Linked DNA regions of Homo sapiens: region 1 is linked to region 2. Evidence: fine-mapped expression QTL. Tissue or cell type: whole blood. Region 2 holds a variant in brackets; the other region holds the start of a gene. All regions are shown on one strand. Distances are from middle to middle.

Region 1 (8,104 bases), 25 kb before region 2:
TAGTATTAATTTAAACTCTATACTTAATGATGCAAACTATGATTATAAATTTTTAGAAGACATTTCTACTACCACTTCAAAGCTTAGGCAAGGACCATAAGATTCTTTGTTATCTCTCTTTGTTCATGAGATTTTTAAAAAATTTATCCTTTCATGATTGGATGAGTGTATGTGTGTGAGAAAAGTCTCTGTTCCTATTCCTTGTTCCTGTAATATGCCTCCTGCATATTATAATTCTGCTTTCTCAGATATCAAGACTTACAACTCTTCACCATTCCCACCCCTGTTGGCCAAAGCATCAGCTGAGGTCCTCAGTCCAAACCAATGCCTCTGGTTTTAGTTTCTTGTTTGGTTTTGGTACGTGGGTACACTTTCCTGTGAGTTAAGTATTTAAAATGATGTCGAATATTATATCTTATTCTAAATTTCTAGATTCTAGTTTATATTATTTGCTACATTGCCCTCAACTGAATTCTGCGTAATATTTATTGTCTTAAACTTATTGTTGTGAGATATTAATATAGCTGTGCCATTTTCCCTTTCCCTTAATACTTGTCTGATATATCTATTTTCCATTCTTTGACTTTCAATACTTGTGCTTTCTTAAGTTTCAGTAGTACCTTATAAGCATCTAACATTTTCTTTCCTTCCTTCCTTCCTTTCTTTCTCTTTCTTTCTCTTTCTCTCTCTCTTTCTTTCTTTCTCTCTCCTTCTCTCTCTCTTTTTTTTTTTGACGGAGTCTCATTCTGTCACCCAGGCTGGAGTGCAGTGGCATGATCTTGGCTCACTACAACCTCCGCCTCTCGGGTTCAAGCAATTCTCCTGCCCCAGCTTCCCCAGTAGCTGGGATTACAGGTGTGCGCCACCACGCTGGGCTAATTTTTGTATTTTTAGTAAAGACAAGGTTTCACCATGTTGGCCAGGCTGGTCTTGAACTCCTGAGCTCAGGTGATCTGTCCACGTTGGCCTCTCAAAGTGCTGGGATTATAGGCATGAGGCACTGTCCAGTCACTTCTAACATTTTTTCTGCGTAAATTTTAGAATCATTTTCACAAGTTTTAAAACAAATCCTATAGGGGTTTTATTTGGTATGACGTTGGACTTATGGATTAAATAAAGAAAACTACCCTTCCTACTGAAGGATTACCTGTGCCTTTCCATTTACACAAGGGGTTTTCATTGGTTTAGTCCCCAAATGTTTAAAATTTTCTTGATATATGTCTTATACATTTATTAGTAAACTTATTCCTATATATGTTTGGTTGCTTTGAGAATAAGACCTTGCCCTACCCTAGTACATTTCTCCACATAGATTAAATGATTTATTCACAGAACTCACAACATCAATAAGTAGGTAAAAATTTTGTAGCCTGAAAACAGCCTTGAACTCCTGGAATGAACATCAACCAGACAGTTGTTTTGCCACAGTTTTCATGAGAAGAAGCAGGCAAAGCCATCTTTACTCTGTCCTATTAAAACTGGAAACAACAAGAAATATTTTTTCTTTTTTGAGACGGAGTTTCGCTCTTGTCGCCCAGGCTGGAGTGCAATGGCGCTATCTCAGCCCACCACAACTTCCGCCTCCTGGGTTCAGGCGATTCTCTGGCCTCAGCCTCCCGAGTAGCTGGGAATACAGGCATGCGCCACCACGCCTGGCTAATTTTGTATTTTTAGTAGAGACAGAGTTTCTCCACGTTAGTCAGGCTGGTCTCGAACTCCCAACCTCAGGTAACTCCCCCCACCTCAGCCTGCCAAAGTGCTGGGATTCCAGGTGTGAGCCACCACGCCTGGCCAACAAAAAAGATTTTTTTTAACATGAGAAGATTGTCAGCTTTCCCTGGTGGTCAGAGAGGAAGGGCTTTAGAGAGGTCTTGGGGCTGCAGGGACAAAGGGTGCAGGAGAAGAAGCCTTAGAGCTGAGCAGGAGGAAACTGACACTACATGGCTGCAGGCCCAGCATGGAAATGAACTTCTAGAATGCTGTAGTCGAAGAGCCAGCTTAATTTTTTAACTCTTGTGTTGTGTGATTTTTCCATCCTTCCTCATTTCTAGGGGTATTAGTTAGGCTATGGGCTTGGAAATTAATTTGAAGAACCCAAATAAATGTGGTTTAAATTTGATGAAAGTTTATTTCTCTCTCATGTATCATCAGAAAGTAAGCCATCTGGGGCTGATATAGCAGCTCTGTGCCTCCTCCTTTTAGTTGCTCTGTCATCCCCAGCAGCCACACCCTTATTCACATGGTCCAAGATGCTCTGATGCTCTCCCTTGTCAACATTCCACCTGGTCGATGAAGGTTTGGGGGCAGGGAGGGCATGTCCCTTGTCTTTAAGGACACAGCATCACATTTTCTTACAGCCTGTTTGCCAGAAGTTGGTCACATGGACACACTTTGCCTTAAAGAATGCTGGGAAATGTGTGCTTTTTCCCTGAGCTGTCATGTCCCTTGCTAGAGATTCTGTAACCTTATAAGAATGGAAGAACAGGGGCTGACAGACAAGAACTGATCTCCATCTCTCCAGACCTACCATAGAGCTTTTGAAACTTGGTTTGTGCATTATTATCTCATTTTTCTGATATGTCTGAAGTAGGAGTAGGAGCTTTGTGGTTATTTAGAGAGCTTTATTTTCTCAACTGTAAAATTAGGCAATGGGTTTATGATGCAAACATTTGGGGCCAGCATTTATGTGATCTGATTCCTTCCTATTTCTTTCAACAAGTCCTCACTCCTGATTTCTGACCCTAGAAAGAAGTGAAAACCAGAACTTATTGACAAGAGCAACGTAATCCCCAGCTATTACTCTGCCCAATCATTTTCTTAATGAACTCATTTTGGAAAACAGTGAAGATCAGGGTCAGGGCAAGGCAGAGAAGGGCACCTGGCCATGGTCACTGTCAAGGTCCAAGGCATAAGACATATCCTACCCTTGGGGACACACAAAGTAGGCTTCTGCCTAAGAGTTAGGGCTGGAGCCTTTGGACCATTGTCAACAACAAATGTTTATTGCTCTCCTTCTTTCTGCCAGTTATTCTCTAGCTGAGGATGATGATGTTGAACAAGATAGATACAGTGTCTGTTCCCTGCAGCCACCAGAGAAGACAGACATATAAATAAACTATCACCATTAAGTAAGTACACAGTGCTGTGATGGCACATAAATGAGTGTCCTGCCTTATTCTGGGTGATGAGGGAAGGCTTGCTTCCCATGCAAAATGGGATTTGAGCTCACACTTCCAGTAACAGTCAAGATGGAGGGTAGGAATGGGAAGGGAAGGGCATTCTAGATTTAGAGAACAGCATTTTTAGCATGTAGGGCTGAGGTAGAGTCAGGGAATGAATGGGAGTGATAAGAAGCCACAGAGGCAAGTGGGAGCCAAATACCAGTCTCCAGTGCAGCAGCGTTGGATGGATCAGAGCTGGAAGGAAGAAAAGCCCACATTACCAGGGTTAGGGGGTGTGTGAGGGGGTGGGGATTTTAAGGGTCGTCCAATCCAGTGGCATTTAGTACTGTCTCCCTTCCCCCAGGGCTCATTTTGGAATTTTATGGTAGGTATTTTGTTATATTTGGTGTCAGTGGTAACATTGCTACTAGCGTTGTGGATAGGAGCCAGGATCCTGCAATGTACAGGACAGTCCTGCCCACTGAAAAAATGTTCACACTTTCAAATGTCTTGCTGAACATTCAGGTAGGTGAAAATTCTATTTCTAAATTATCTGAATCTAAACCTGTTTTCTGGATAAACATGTATTTTTGCACAGTTTTAACATACACTGATCTTCCAGGAATGTAATTATTGTATAATCAAGAGACGATTGTCCTGTGTTTCATTCAGAACTTCACGAAAACATGTTTGCCATTTTGGATCATAATTTTGTGACTTTTGCAACAATGTAAGTCACAGCTTTGTGGCTGTGGCACTCAGACAACGTCTATGTGTAAAGGCGACCACCTTATTAGGTCTCCTGCAGCAGCCAAGACCAAACACATTGAAGTATGTGTTTTTAAACGACAGATGACGGTCCTCTTTTTTTTCTCTTTCATTACACTTAAGGCATAACATTAGTTTTTAATATGTAGGTGTGTATGTTATGTATGATTTTCTAGGCCATTATATATGAATATCAGGTCAGGAGAATAAGATGGACATTACAAACTATTTGTTAGAAAAAGGGGGCATTGGGTGTGACAGCGCGCCATCCACTGGTCCATTTCCAAGACTCCCACACGTGGCTGCACCTGCAGCTTCACCTCCCCGGGCTGGGTCCCCGCTTGGCTCTGATTCTTACCTGCCCCATTCCCCAGGGGTAACAGTCACCGTGGGCCAGACCCGAGCTAGCCGACAGGGATGCGGCCACAGCTGGCCGGGCGTGACCACCACCGAGGCGCAGCGACCTTGCTCCTAGAGAGGCCCGGCCGCCTGGTGACGCACTTCCGGCAGCGCCGGGGAGCAGTCCGCTACGGAGGTGAGTGCAGGGCTCCGGGCGCTGTGTGCCGTGCCCTGTCCCCCAGGCTCTGGGTCCGGTTGAGACGCACTCCCACCCTGGGTGCTGCAGGGTCTCCCGTGGCCTACGCTGCCAGGAGGCCCAGGCTGGGAGAGGGAGCAGGGCGGCGGCCCGGGGTGCTCTTCCGCGCTCCTCGACTCCAGCTTTGGTCTTTGTGGCTCAATAGCTTGCGCCCATTGGAAGGGGAAACGCACGTTGCTGTCCCAGCCACGAGGCCCTGAGCATTTAGCACTTGGTCGACGGGGGAAGATGTGTCGGTGCAGCTAAAAGATGGAATATTTGCGGGCGTGAAGCGGCCCGAGGTGATACCACAAGTCTTTTGACATGCTGAGGTCTGGCAGGAACATTAACCTATGTGCATCCCGAGTATGGACCGTGTGCTCCCAGGCTCCTGACATAGGGTCATGAATTAGGGCCGAGTGGGAGCGCAGAGCCCCTCCCAGTCACCCGGCAGCAGAAGCAGCCCGGCTTTTGGAGGACATTGTCTCCTGGAGCAGTGTCAGTCCCAAAAGGTAACTCAGCCCTGCTTCTCTCGGCTCAGGGTTGACAGTGACCTGGGAATGACTTCTACAACGTAATTACGAATTCACTCAGTTTTAGAATATATTTAGTAGTCTCAGAATCGCTAATTCATACCCCCATGAAAAGCAAATTTACTACCTAAAGTACAGTACTTGGATACAGGTCTTTTTGTCTTTACTCTTATGGTATTTAGTCAAAATACTGTTTTCCAAAGTTGCTTACCCCTTTTCTTTCCTACCACTTAAGTGTGGTTATGTTCACTGTAGTATAGTTAAGCACATTGGCTGTTCTTTGTATTACATTTTGGGTCCTCAATTTCACCCCATCCTTGCTGGTTTATATATTTATTTAAAATATATATTTATATGTTACATATATAGTAGTAAACATCCATGAACACACCACCCAATTAAGAAAGAGAAGATTGCCAGTACTGCTGAATTTATCAATGTGTTCCTCCTCCTCAACCCAACTCCCAGCCTCCAACCCCTAGAGGTAACAGTTATATTGACTTTTGTGTTAATTGTAGCCCTGTTATTTTAAAAAATAATTACATATGCATGTATCTGTAAGCAATGTACTTAAATTTTTTTTTTGAGCTTCATATAAATGGCACCATTGTGTGTATAAGTCATCTGGGACTCGCATAATTCAATGTTAAGTTTCCAAATTCATTCTGTGTGTAGCTTCTGGGTAATGTTCCATTGTAAAAACTGTATGAAAATTTATCGATGTATTTTCAATGGACATGTGGGTTGTTTTCAGTGTTTTGTTATTAAAATGTGCTGATAATATTTTTGTACGTACTTCCTACATATGAGAGTTTCTCTAGTGTGTAAGTTTTTAAAATTAGGCACAAATGTTGAATTATGTTAAACATCTTTGGCATCTGTTGAGATGGACAGTGTGTTTATCTTTCTTTGATTTATTAATGTGAAAAATATACTAATTAGTATCTTCGTGGGATAATCCTACTTACTCATGATGTATTTAATGAACTATTGGAGTCTATTCCTTGATAGAATTTTTGCATTAGAATTCATAAATGAGACTGGTCTGTAGTTTTTGCATCAGTATTGTGCTGGCACCATAAAAAGAATTGGGAAACTTACTTTGCTGTGCTCTGCTACGGTTTACATAGTGTTAGAATTACTCATTTCCGAAACATTGAAAGAATTTGCTCATGACACATCTGAGCTCAGTGTTTTGTGAGAGTTAGTTCTTCACTGGCCATCTTGGTTTAATTAGGTAAAAGTAATCAAGGATTATGTAGAAAATCTATATAATGTCATAACAGGAAAAAACCTGGAATCGTATTTAAAAAAAAAAACTATCCCCTTGGGAGGGAGCCAAGAGACCAAAGAATGCCTTGGACGAGTCCAGCTTGGCAAGTAGATGAGTTTATTAGGACTTACATACTTACTCCTGGATGGCAGCAGGACAGCTTTAGAGACCTGTGATGCCCCTCGTCTCTAAGTACTTTTTAGAGAATTTTCTGGCTGTTTGCCTACTGCATTTAAACGATGAGACTTTTCTTGGTAGGTTCTCATATACTTTCTAGGATGTTTACGTTCTTGCAAACACCTGCTCCTCTGCTGAGCCCCATGGTCTTGACTCACTGCCCGGTCTTCAAGGTTCAGGCAGCAGGTATACACCCTTGACTAGCTGAGCGGGGTAGCTATCACACTACATATGTAATTGGTAGAGTTGGTTTATTATCTAAAAATGGAGTTGTATATTCTCCCATCACAGAATAAGTTTTCTCTTTAAACACCAGATAATATATTTTTTTAAATGGACATGAGTCACAAAAAAACCCTGAAAAATGTGTAAAGTAGAAGTTAGTAGATTGGGTTATATAACCATCATGCAATAAAGCCAGAACTTATAAACAGAAGAAATTAGCAACAGTAAACTATCCTAAGCAATTACTAGGTCAGAGACAAAACAGAATTGCTGACTGACTATAAAACAGTAATTAAAACATGAAATATAAAAACCTCTGGAATGTGGCAAATAGTGTATCCCAAGGAAAATTTGTGGCCTTATAGGCTTTAATTGCCAAATAGGAAGAATGAAAATAAATGAATAAGTCATGCAACCTCAAGAAGGTGGGAAAAAAGCCTTTTGTAGTCTAAGCTTCCCCAAAAGCAGAACGTGGAACAAAGATTTGTATGTAGGAATTTATTTAGGAATATGGTCACAGGGGCAGAGTGAAAGACAAGGGGAGTGAAACAGAGATGGGAGAACTGGTACAAGGATGCATTGGTATGCTCGGCCCTCAACAGGCTCTGCCTTGCAGGGCGTTTGAGGAGCCTTGGAGTCTTAAGGCTGCCCCGCTGGGGGATCGACGGGGAAAACATTTATCCATTGGTTTCTCTCCCCTATTGGTCAAGGGGGTCCCACAGGTGTTAATGCCTCTGCACTTCAGGGCCCAGCAGGTGTCCACAGGTGTCCCACATAGGACACCAGAGAAGCCCCAGGGCAGGAACCAGGCATAGGTGATGTAGGTCCTTGTGAAGGTTCTGGTAGCTTGCAGCTTCACAAAGCTGACTAACCTCTGTAGAACTGGACTGAGGATGGGATAAGAGGATTGGAGTGGTGCTTACACTGCCCCTTACAGAGCTGAAGGAACAAACTAAGAGCAGAATTAGTGAATTTAAAACAAATAGAAGAAAGTAGTGTTGCTCAACTAGAAAAGCTGGTTCTTTGAAAATAAAAGGAAACCACATTAAAATAAGTAAAACACTGCTCAGCCTAACTGTATTAGTCTGCTTGGGCTGCCATAACAAAATACCATAGACTGGGTGGCTTCACCAACATACTTATTTCTCACAGTCCTGGAGACTGGAAGTCCAGGATCAAGGTGCCAGCTGATTTTGGCTCCTGCCAGGGTTGCCTTCCTGGCTTATAGATAGTAGCCCTCTCGTTGTGTCCTCACATGGGGGAGGCGGGGAGTGAGTGGTTTCGTGGGCTCTGGGTCTCTCCTTCTTCTTGTAAAGGCATCACCCCTATTGGACCTCATTTAACCTTAGGACCTTTAGTCCCACCCTTAGGACCTCATTTATCCTTGTAACCT
Region 2 (8,104 bases):
ACCAACAACAAAAAAAAGTGAACTTTTCTTACAAAATAAATCGAGTGAAATCCTGCTGCGAGGCCCACATTGTAGAGTTGCTGTCGAGGACTGTGGGGGAGGCGGAAAGTTGCCGGCGGGCTCCTGAGAGTGACTGAGCAGGGGGCTTTGGTAACAGGTCCCTGGGGAGATAAGAGATGGACCCAGGACAGAAATCGGAATGCAGGACTTGGGAATGCAAACTTCCCATGGCAGGGACGGGACGCGAGGTGGGTGGGAAGAGCAATGTACGATGCGGGAGACGCCACCGTGCTTGTGGGAAGGGCAGCGTCACCATGCTAGGAGGAAGGGGCCTTGGCAAGGAATGGGGAGTTGGGGCTCCCCGTGACAGTGAGGGAGGAGGTGGGAGGAGGGGCCTGGCCGTGCATTGTCCCTTCCAGGTGCCCGCCAGAGGGCGCGTCAGCCCTCAAATAAAGATCTGGAGGCTCACAGTCGCAGTTCTGCCCAGATGACCCCATCTCTGACCTTTGTGTTGGCCCACTAGGTGTTGGGGTCCCACCAGCCATTTGACGACAGCTACCCATAGCCTCCGGGCTGGGACACCTGCAGCTGTGTGGCTCTTCTAGGGGAGCAAAGGGAAGAAAACCACCAGCTAAAGTGCCTGGAGTTTGCTGGCTAAAGGGGAAGAAGGAAAAATGCTGTTGGGATTTGCAGGACCCCTAACTCATGACCCCATGTCTGGTTTTGGGTCTTTCTTGTAAAATACACATAACATGAAATTTAACACTTTAGCTATTTTTTTTTTCTTTTGAGGCGCAGTCTCGCTCTGTTGCCCAGGCTGGAGTGCAGTCGCCCGATTTCGGTTCACTGCAACCTCTGCCTCCTGGGTTCAAGTGATTCTCCTGCCTCAGCCTCCCGAGTAGCTGGGATTACAGGTGCCCGGCTCATCTTAGCTATTTTAAAGTGTACAATTCCGTGGCATTAGGTACATCACAATGTTGCACAACCATCACCACCCTCTAGTTTCAGAACTTTTTTGTCATCCCAAAAGGAATTCCAGACCCATTAAGAAGTGGCGTCCCATTCCCCTTTGCCAGTCCCTGGCAACCACTAACCTGCTTTCTGTCTCTAAGGACTGGCCTTTTGTGGATATTTCATGTAGATAGAATCATGCAGTATTGGCCTTTTGTGTCTGGCTTATTTCACATAGCATAATATTTTCAGGTTCACCCATGTGGTAGTGTGTATCACAGCTTCATTCTTTTTATGGCTGAGTAATGCTCCGTTGTATATTTACACCACATTTTGATCCATTCTTCAATTGGGGGACACTTGGGTTGTTTCTTTTTGGCTACTGTGAATAATGCTTCTGTGAACACTGGTGTCCAAGAAATGTTTAAGTCCCTGTTTTCCATTTTTGGGGGCATATACTTAAGAGTGGAGCTGCTGGGTCACATGTTAACTCTGAGGAGTTGCCAAACTGTTTTTCACAGTGGCTGCTCCGTGGTATTCCTATCAGCAACGTAGGAGGGTTCCAATTTCCCCACATTCTCACCAACATTTGTTATTTTCTGTGGTTTTGGTGGCTGTCATAGCCATCCTAGGGTGTGTGAAGTGATCTATTACATGTGGCTTTGATTTCCATTTCCCGGATGACTGGTGATGTGGAGTGTCTTTTTCTTTTAGCTGGTTCCCAGCCTCCAGTCTTGTCCCTTCCCCCCATTCTATCCCTAGAAGAACAGCTACAGTCCTCCTTCTGAAACCCAACTCTGATTATGTCTCCCCCAGCTCAGAACCACCCCCAAATGCCTTCCAACTCTCTCTGGAAAGGAGGACACATTCCTGCCCTCCCTGCCTCCAAAACACACACCCTCTGTGCTCCAGCCCCTAGAAAATTCTCCCAATTGCTAAAATCCATTCCTTTGCCTCTGCCCTTCTGTCTGTCTGGAACATTCTCCTATGCTCTCTGCTACCCTGCTTCCCCCGCTGAGTCCTTCCATCCTTCTGACCTTACGTACTCCCTATCACCTTTCACTTCCAGGTTATGTGACTTTCTCTGGGCTCACACACCCCACCCCTTTACAGCCCTCCTCCTCCACCATGTCACTTTCCACTCTGACTTGTAATCTCCAGTTCAGTGGTCAGTTTCCCTTCAAAGAGGGAATTCCACACGGGTCATGGTCAGCTCTGTGGGCCCAGCCTCATCTCCTCAGTGCCCAGCACAGCGGGGGTCAGTAAGACTGTGCCAACTGGCCACGGGGATGGAAAGGTGGTGGGGAAGGGGCACAGGTGTGTTTGATTACTATCATTAGCCCTGTTTGCTTTCTCTGCGTGGAATCAACTTTACCCTGGTTGTGACAGTTTTGGTCAAGGGGGTCCCACCTGTTGCCCACATACACCTGAATTTCAACTATGGCACATCCTGAGCTCAAGCTGGGTCCCTCTATCCACGGCTGAGGGACAACAGGATGCACTCTCTGTCCATCTGGTTATTTCTAAAGCACCAATTGCCTTTAACTTGCCTCTGGGTATAAGAACCACGGCTCTCTTTGACTCTTGCAACTCCTCGGGCTGTCCCTATTTTCGCTTTTTTTTTTTTTTTTTTTGAGATGGAGTCTCACCCTGATACCCAGGCTGGAGTGCAGTGGTGCGATCTTGGCTCACGGCAACCTCTGTCTCCTGGGTTCAAGTGATTCTCCCTGCCTCAGCCTCCCGAATAGCTGGGATTACAGCCGCCCACCAATATCCCTTACCTTTAGCAAGCAATCTGCACATTCCAAGTTTAATTACAGCTCCTTATGGTTTCTTTTCTTTTCTTTTTTCTCTTTTCTTTCTTTCTCTCTCTCTTTTTTTTTTTTTTTTTGAGATGGAGTCTCGTTCTGTCACCCAGGCTGGAGTGGAGTGGCGCAATCTTGCTTCAGGGCTCTGCCTCCTGGGCTCAGGTGATTCTCCTGCCTCAGCCTCCTGAGTAGCTGGGATGATAGGCATGCCACCATGCCTGGCTAATTTTGTATTTTTATTAGAGACGGGTTTCACCACGTTGGCCAGGCTGGTCTCGAACTCGTGACCTCAGGTGATCCACCCGCCTCGGCCTCCCAAAGTGCTGGGATTACGGCTGTGAACCACTGTGTCCGGCCACTCCTTATGGTTTCTTATAAGTAGAGACACTAACAGAAGATGGTGTGTTCCTCCTCCTGCTTTCTGAGGATGCTCCACTCTACAACAGAGTAGTTTCTAATAAACTTGTTTCTTTCACGCTGCACTCTGTGACCTGCCTTTAATTCCTTCCTGCGTGAGATCCAAGACTCTTGGGGTCTGGATCAGGACCCTCTCTTTCCAGCAACATTATCTTGAAGGCAATAGGCAGCCACAGACGTTCTGGGGACAAGGGGTGTGTAAGTGAGGCAGAGGGGAGAAGGGAGAGACAGAGAGCTTTGGAGA[T/A]TGGAGGTCAGGGGTGGTAAAAGATTCCTCTGTAAGTAGCAGCCATCTCAGGATTTCTTCAAAAGAAGGGAGCCAATGAATGAGAAAGAAGCCAGAGGAGAGGAGACAGTAGATTCAGTGGGGGAAAGGGGGTGATCAGGGAATGGAGGCAAAAGCAAGGAGTGAAGGAGGAAAGGGGTCCAGCTTCATCACCCCTTCCTCTCCTTCCAGAAAGGGATCCTCAGACCGAAGGGTTCCCCCAGTGCCTCTCAGATGCTGGTCCCCAGCCTGGTGGCAGCAGCAACAGCATCACCAACACATCGGGAACTTGTTAGAAACACAGTCTTGGGCCCCACCCATGCCTACTGAATCAAAATTTCTTTCTCTTCTCTTCTCTTCTCTTCTCCCTTCTCTTTCCTTTCTTCCTTCCTTCCTCTTTGTTTCTTCCTTCCTTTCTTTTCTTCTCTTCTCTCTCTCTCTCCTCCCTCCCTTTCTTTTCCTTTTTTTTTTTTTTTTTCTGAGACAGAGTCTCACTCTGTCACTCAGGCTGGAATGCAGTGGCGCAATCTCAGCTCACTGCAGCCTCCACCTCCCAGATTCAAGTAATTCTTGTGCCTCAGCCTCCCAAGTAGCTGGAATTACAGGCACGCACCATCATGCCCAGCTAATTTTTGTATTTCTAGTAGAGACAGGGTTTCACCATGTTGGCCAGGCTGGTCTCAAACATCTGACCTCAGGTGATCCACCTGCCTCGGCTTCCCAAAGTGCTGGGATTACAGGCGTGCACCACCATACCCAGTTAATTTTTGTATGTTTAGTATAGACAGGGTTTCACCATGTTGGACAGGCTGGTCCTGACTTCAAGTGATCTGCCCGCCTCGGCCTCCCCAAGTGCTGGGATTACAGGTGTGAGCCACTGTGCCCAGCCCTGAATCAGAATTTCTGGGAGTGGGTCCACCACACTTTTAACAAGGCCTCCAGGGGATTTGATGTGTGCTCCAATGTAAGAACCACTGGCTGAGACAGCCACGAAAAAGAGAGTGTTCCTCAGTCTTTGCTTTCAGGGACACTGGTAAAAGATTAGAGGCCCAGAGCCAGGCACGCTCAGGCCAGAGCAGGGGAGGAAGAGGAAAGCGGCCCCGTGTCCCTCCCACAGTCACCCACTGTTGGCTTCAGGCCAAGATCAGCCTTCTCAAGCAAAGGAGATTCACCTGGAGCTGAGACTCTGACTCTTGGCTCTGGCGAACAGCTCAACTCAACTCCCCATCTTTGCACAGACGCTGGCTCTTGTAGGGTGGTTTGAATCCAGTCCAAAGACGTATCCCCCTAAAAATGTCTCCCTCTATCTTAACTCCTACCATGAAAATACTTGGTGGGTCCCTGTCTTACTACCCCCAATTCAAGGGCTCATAGGTTAACCTGAGATACCGCCAGCAGCAGCTTGGCTCAGCGGGGTTGGTTGTGTGGCCACGTCTGGTGATTGATTGACAGCCATTCAGGGCCAGGATACCTGACCGAGATTCTGACCCAGGGCTTGACAACCCATTAGGCTCACGTTTAAAAGCAGCAGCACCGCAGGATAGGGGCAGCACCTGGGTGTGGAAGGGAGGGTCTGGGGCTGGGAGAGGATGTGGGGATTCTTATGCCTGGCTGGGTCTTAGCTTGGCTGACTTCCCATGTCTAGGGTTTGACCTTCTTCCTTCAGAGGTGAGTTTCCTGCCATGGGGGGTTTGAGTGAGCCCCCAGACCAGCATTCTGGGGGCTTTGGAAAGAGAGTTGTCTGGTAAGAGGGTGGGGAGCTCTGTGTTCCTAGCTCTGGGAGAGAGAAGAGAAGGGAATCGGTGATACTGACTCTTCCTCCTGCTCTTTCTAGAAAGCCTTGTTTTATTCTTAGGGTGAAATTCTGGCAAATTTGGAGGCTGAAGCCCTGGTTAAATAGTTTCACTGCTTTTAAACTTTATGTAGGCCCCAAAAGGGGGTCTGAGCAGTGGTGGTCTCTGCTGGGAGTTTCCATGCTCCAAGCTCAGCCCTGGTGTCTCCAATTAGAGGAGCCTGACGCAAGTCAAGGAGAGTGCGTTAAATTATTTAAACAACTAAGAATCAGGAGGATCAACATTTGGGGTGAGATGAGAAAGGCTCCAGATCCAACCATTTTTAACATAGGTTTGAATGTCCAGAAATATGCAGAAAAGGTACTGAGTTATGCAGTGACAAATCTCCCTCCCATTCTTCTTTCCTATTTGCCAATTTCCATCTCTGAAAGGCAACCACTGTTTCTAATTTCTTATATACAAAGATAAATTTAATTTCCATTTTTCTTTTACATAAAAGTTGCATATTTGGCACATTTTTCTGAACATTGCAGTTTTCACCCACTTATTAATACACCTTGGAATATTCCATATCAATGTATGCATCCTTGTTATTTTATTTTATTTTATTTTATTTATTTATTTTGAGACAGAGTTTCACTCTGCCACCCAGGCTGGAGTGCATTGGCACGATCTCGGCTCACTGCAACCTCCGCCTCCCGGGTTCAAGCAATTCTCCTGCCTCAGCCTCCTGAGTAGCTGGGATTACAGGTGCGTGGCACCACACCTGGCTAATTTTTGTAGTTTTAGTAGAGACAGCGTTTCACCTTGTTGGTCAGGCTGGTCTTGAACTCCTGACCTCATGATCTGCCTGCCTCGGCCTCCCAAAGTGCTGGGATTACAGGCGTGAGCTACCGTGCCTAGCCATGTCCTTGTTATTTTTAATAGCTGCATACCATTCTACCATATGGCTATACTCTAACTTATTGCACCAGTCTCCTCCCATGGCCATTTGGGCATTGGCCAGACATCTGCCAAATCCCAGGCTGGAATGCAGTGGTGCAATCTTGGCTCTGCAAAGGTTATAACAAACAATGTCCCAATATTGTCACAAACAGTGCTGCTGTTCTCCAGCTTGTACATCTATTATTTTGCATATATCCAAGTGCACCTCTAGGGTACATTTTTAGAAGTGGAAGTACTAGGTTAAAGGTCACTGCATCGGTAATAATGGCGGATATTGCCTTCCTTCTAATAGGGAGGTAGGAAAGGAGGTGGTTTAGAGCTATGCAGGACAGGGTTCGAACCTCCTCTCTGTGTTTTCTAGCAGTTTGATCATGGACCCAGTGCTCTCCAAGCTCCAGTTTTAAAAAATCTATAAAATGGGGCCCATATAGTTGTGAGCATAAAATGAGATCAGCTATGTAAAGCATTTAGTTCAGGGCCAAACACACAGAGAAGTAAAACTCTCCCCTGCATCTTCCCAAGGACAGGTAGCCTGGGCCCCCACCCTGGTGCTTGCCATAGAGTTCGTGGGTGTTTGAGAGCCAGCTATTGAGCCTGGCTGTCAAGCTGGTGGTTCTCACTTGAAGATCCTTTCCCCGCGCATTGTCTTGTCCCATCCCTAAGGCTCCTGATGTGCTCTGTTCATAGAACCCTGGGTCTCTCCAGGGCCTTCCTAGGGCTGGCTGTTGGGCAGGAGCCTTCCTGAAGGAGGGTATTTGGTCTACTTAAATCCTCAAAGCTCTGGTCCCTGACACAGGCCTCAAATAAGTGTACTATCTTCTATTGATTGTTTACCACTAGCCTTGTACAATGCCGAGTATTCTACTTGAGTGATTGCATCCAGTTCTCAGAATTATCCCATAGGGTAGGAAATAGTAATCACCTCCAAGCCAACTTCATCATTAGATAGCCTTGCCCCGTCCAAGTAGGACACCTTATATTCTTATGATCTCTTGGGGTTTCCTCCAACCCCTCTAGGTGAGAGACACATGTTGTATGTGGAATTTCCTGTTGCCTTATATTTTATTTAGCTTAGGTATGAGCCCTCATTTGAAATATGTACAGCCAGATGAAAAGGTGAGTTTGATTTTTTTGAGACGGAGTCTTGCTTTGTTGACCAGGCTGGAGTGCAGTGGCACGATCTCACCTCAGTGCAACCTCCGCCTCCTCTGTTCAAGTGATTCTCCTGCCTCAGCCTCCCAAGTAGCTGGGATTACAGGCACGTGCCATCATGCCCGGCTAATTTTTGTATTTTCAGTAGAGATTGGGTTTCACAATGTTGGCCAGGCTGGTCTCAAACTCCTGGCCTTGTGATCTGCCTGCCTCAGCCTCCCAAAGAGCTGGGATTACAGGTGTGAGCCACCGTGCCCGGCAGGTGAGTTTGATTTTTAAATGACCAGAAATACAGTCCATTTGCATAAAAGGAAAAATACAATGCCTGGCACTAACATCTCAAAGTGCTTGTGTGACGCTTTCACCCTTGACATCATTGCCGCCAACACCTAATGTGAAAAGCTAGTTGGCAACCACTCTTTTGAATCTTTTCACCAAAGGAGACATTCTCTGCCCCTTCTAAAGAGACCCTACAGAGCACATGTGCATAGCTGCGTCTCTTTTTTTTCACCTTACAGGGGATCAGGACACACTGGGAACCTGGTGTCTGTTTGGCGGGTCTATTTGTCAAGTCCTAGAACCGGGTGGTCCAGACACCTCACTGATCTAAGAACATGAGTGGAGAGAAGGAAGAGGCATCGCTCAGAATGTTCGGGGCTTATGGTGAGCCAGAGGAGAGGAGGGATGTGCTGGAAAGCTCTGGCGTTTCCTCTCAGCCTGAGCCACAAGTGCAGCAGCAACTGGGCAGTCTGTTGGGAGTGCCCTGGCAGCCCCCG

What was found. PIP is the estimated chance that this variant, and not a neighbour inherited with it, causes the effect.
Region 1: it holds the start of ZNF23, and the variant in region 2 is fine-mapped to the expression of ZNF23 in whole blood (TOPMed, PIP above 0.99).

Annotation. Positions count from the first base shown.
Region 1 is chr16:71,458,570-71,466,673 of GRCh38, reverse strand. It overlaps ZNF23 (zinc finger protein 23), which reads left to right and starts at 4,427. Exons shown (of 5, transcript NM_001381984.1): 1 at 4,427-4,464. It overlaps LOC124903709 (a long non-coding RNA gene), which reads right to left and starts at 4,362. Exons shown (of 2, transcript XR_007065105.1): 1 at 3,382-4,362; 2 at 1-2,741. RefSeq lists enhancers at 4,309-4,468, 4,739-4,828.
Region 2 is chr16:71,433,163-71,441,266 of GRCh38, reverse strand. TLE7 (TLE family member 7) reads left to right here. Exons shown (of 10, transcript NM_001367365.2): 2 at 7,847-8,104. The coding sequence starts at 7,943. Among named protein-coding and RNA genes, the nearest start is that of TLE7, 4.8 kb to the left of the region's middle. The variant T/A (reference allele first, on the strand shown) is at 3,421.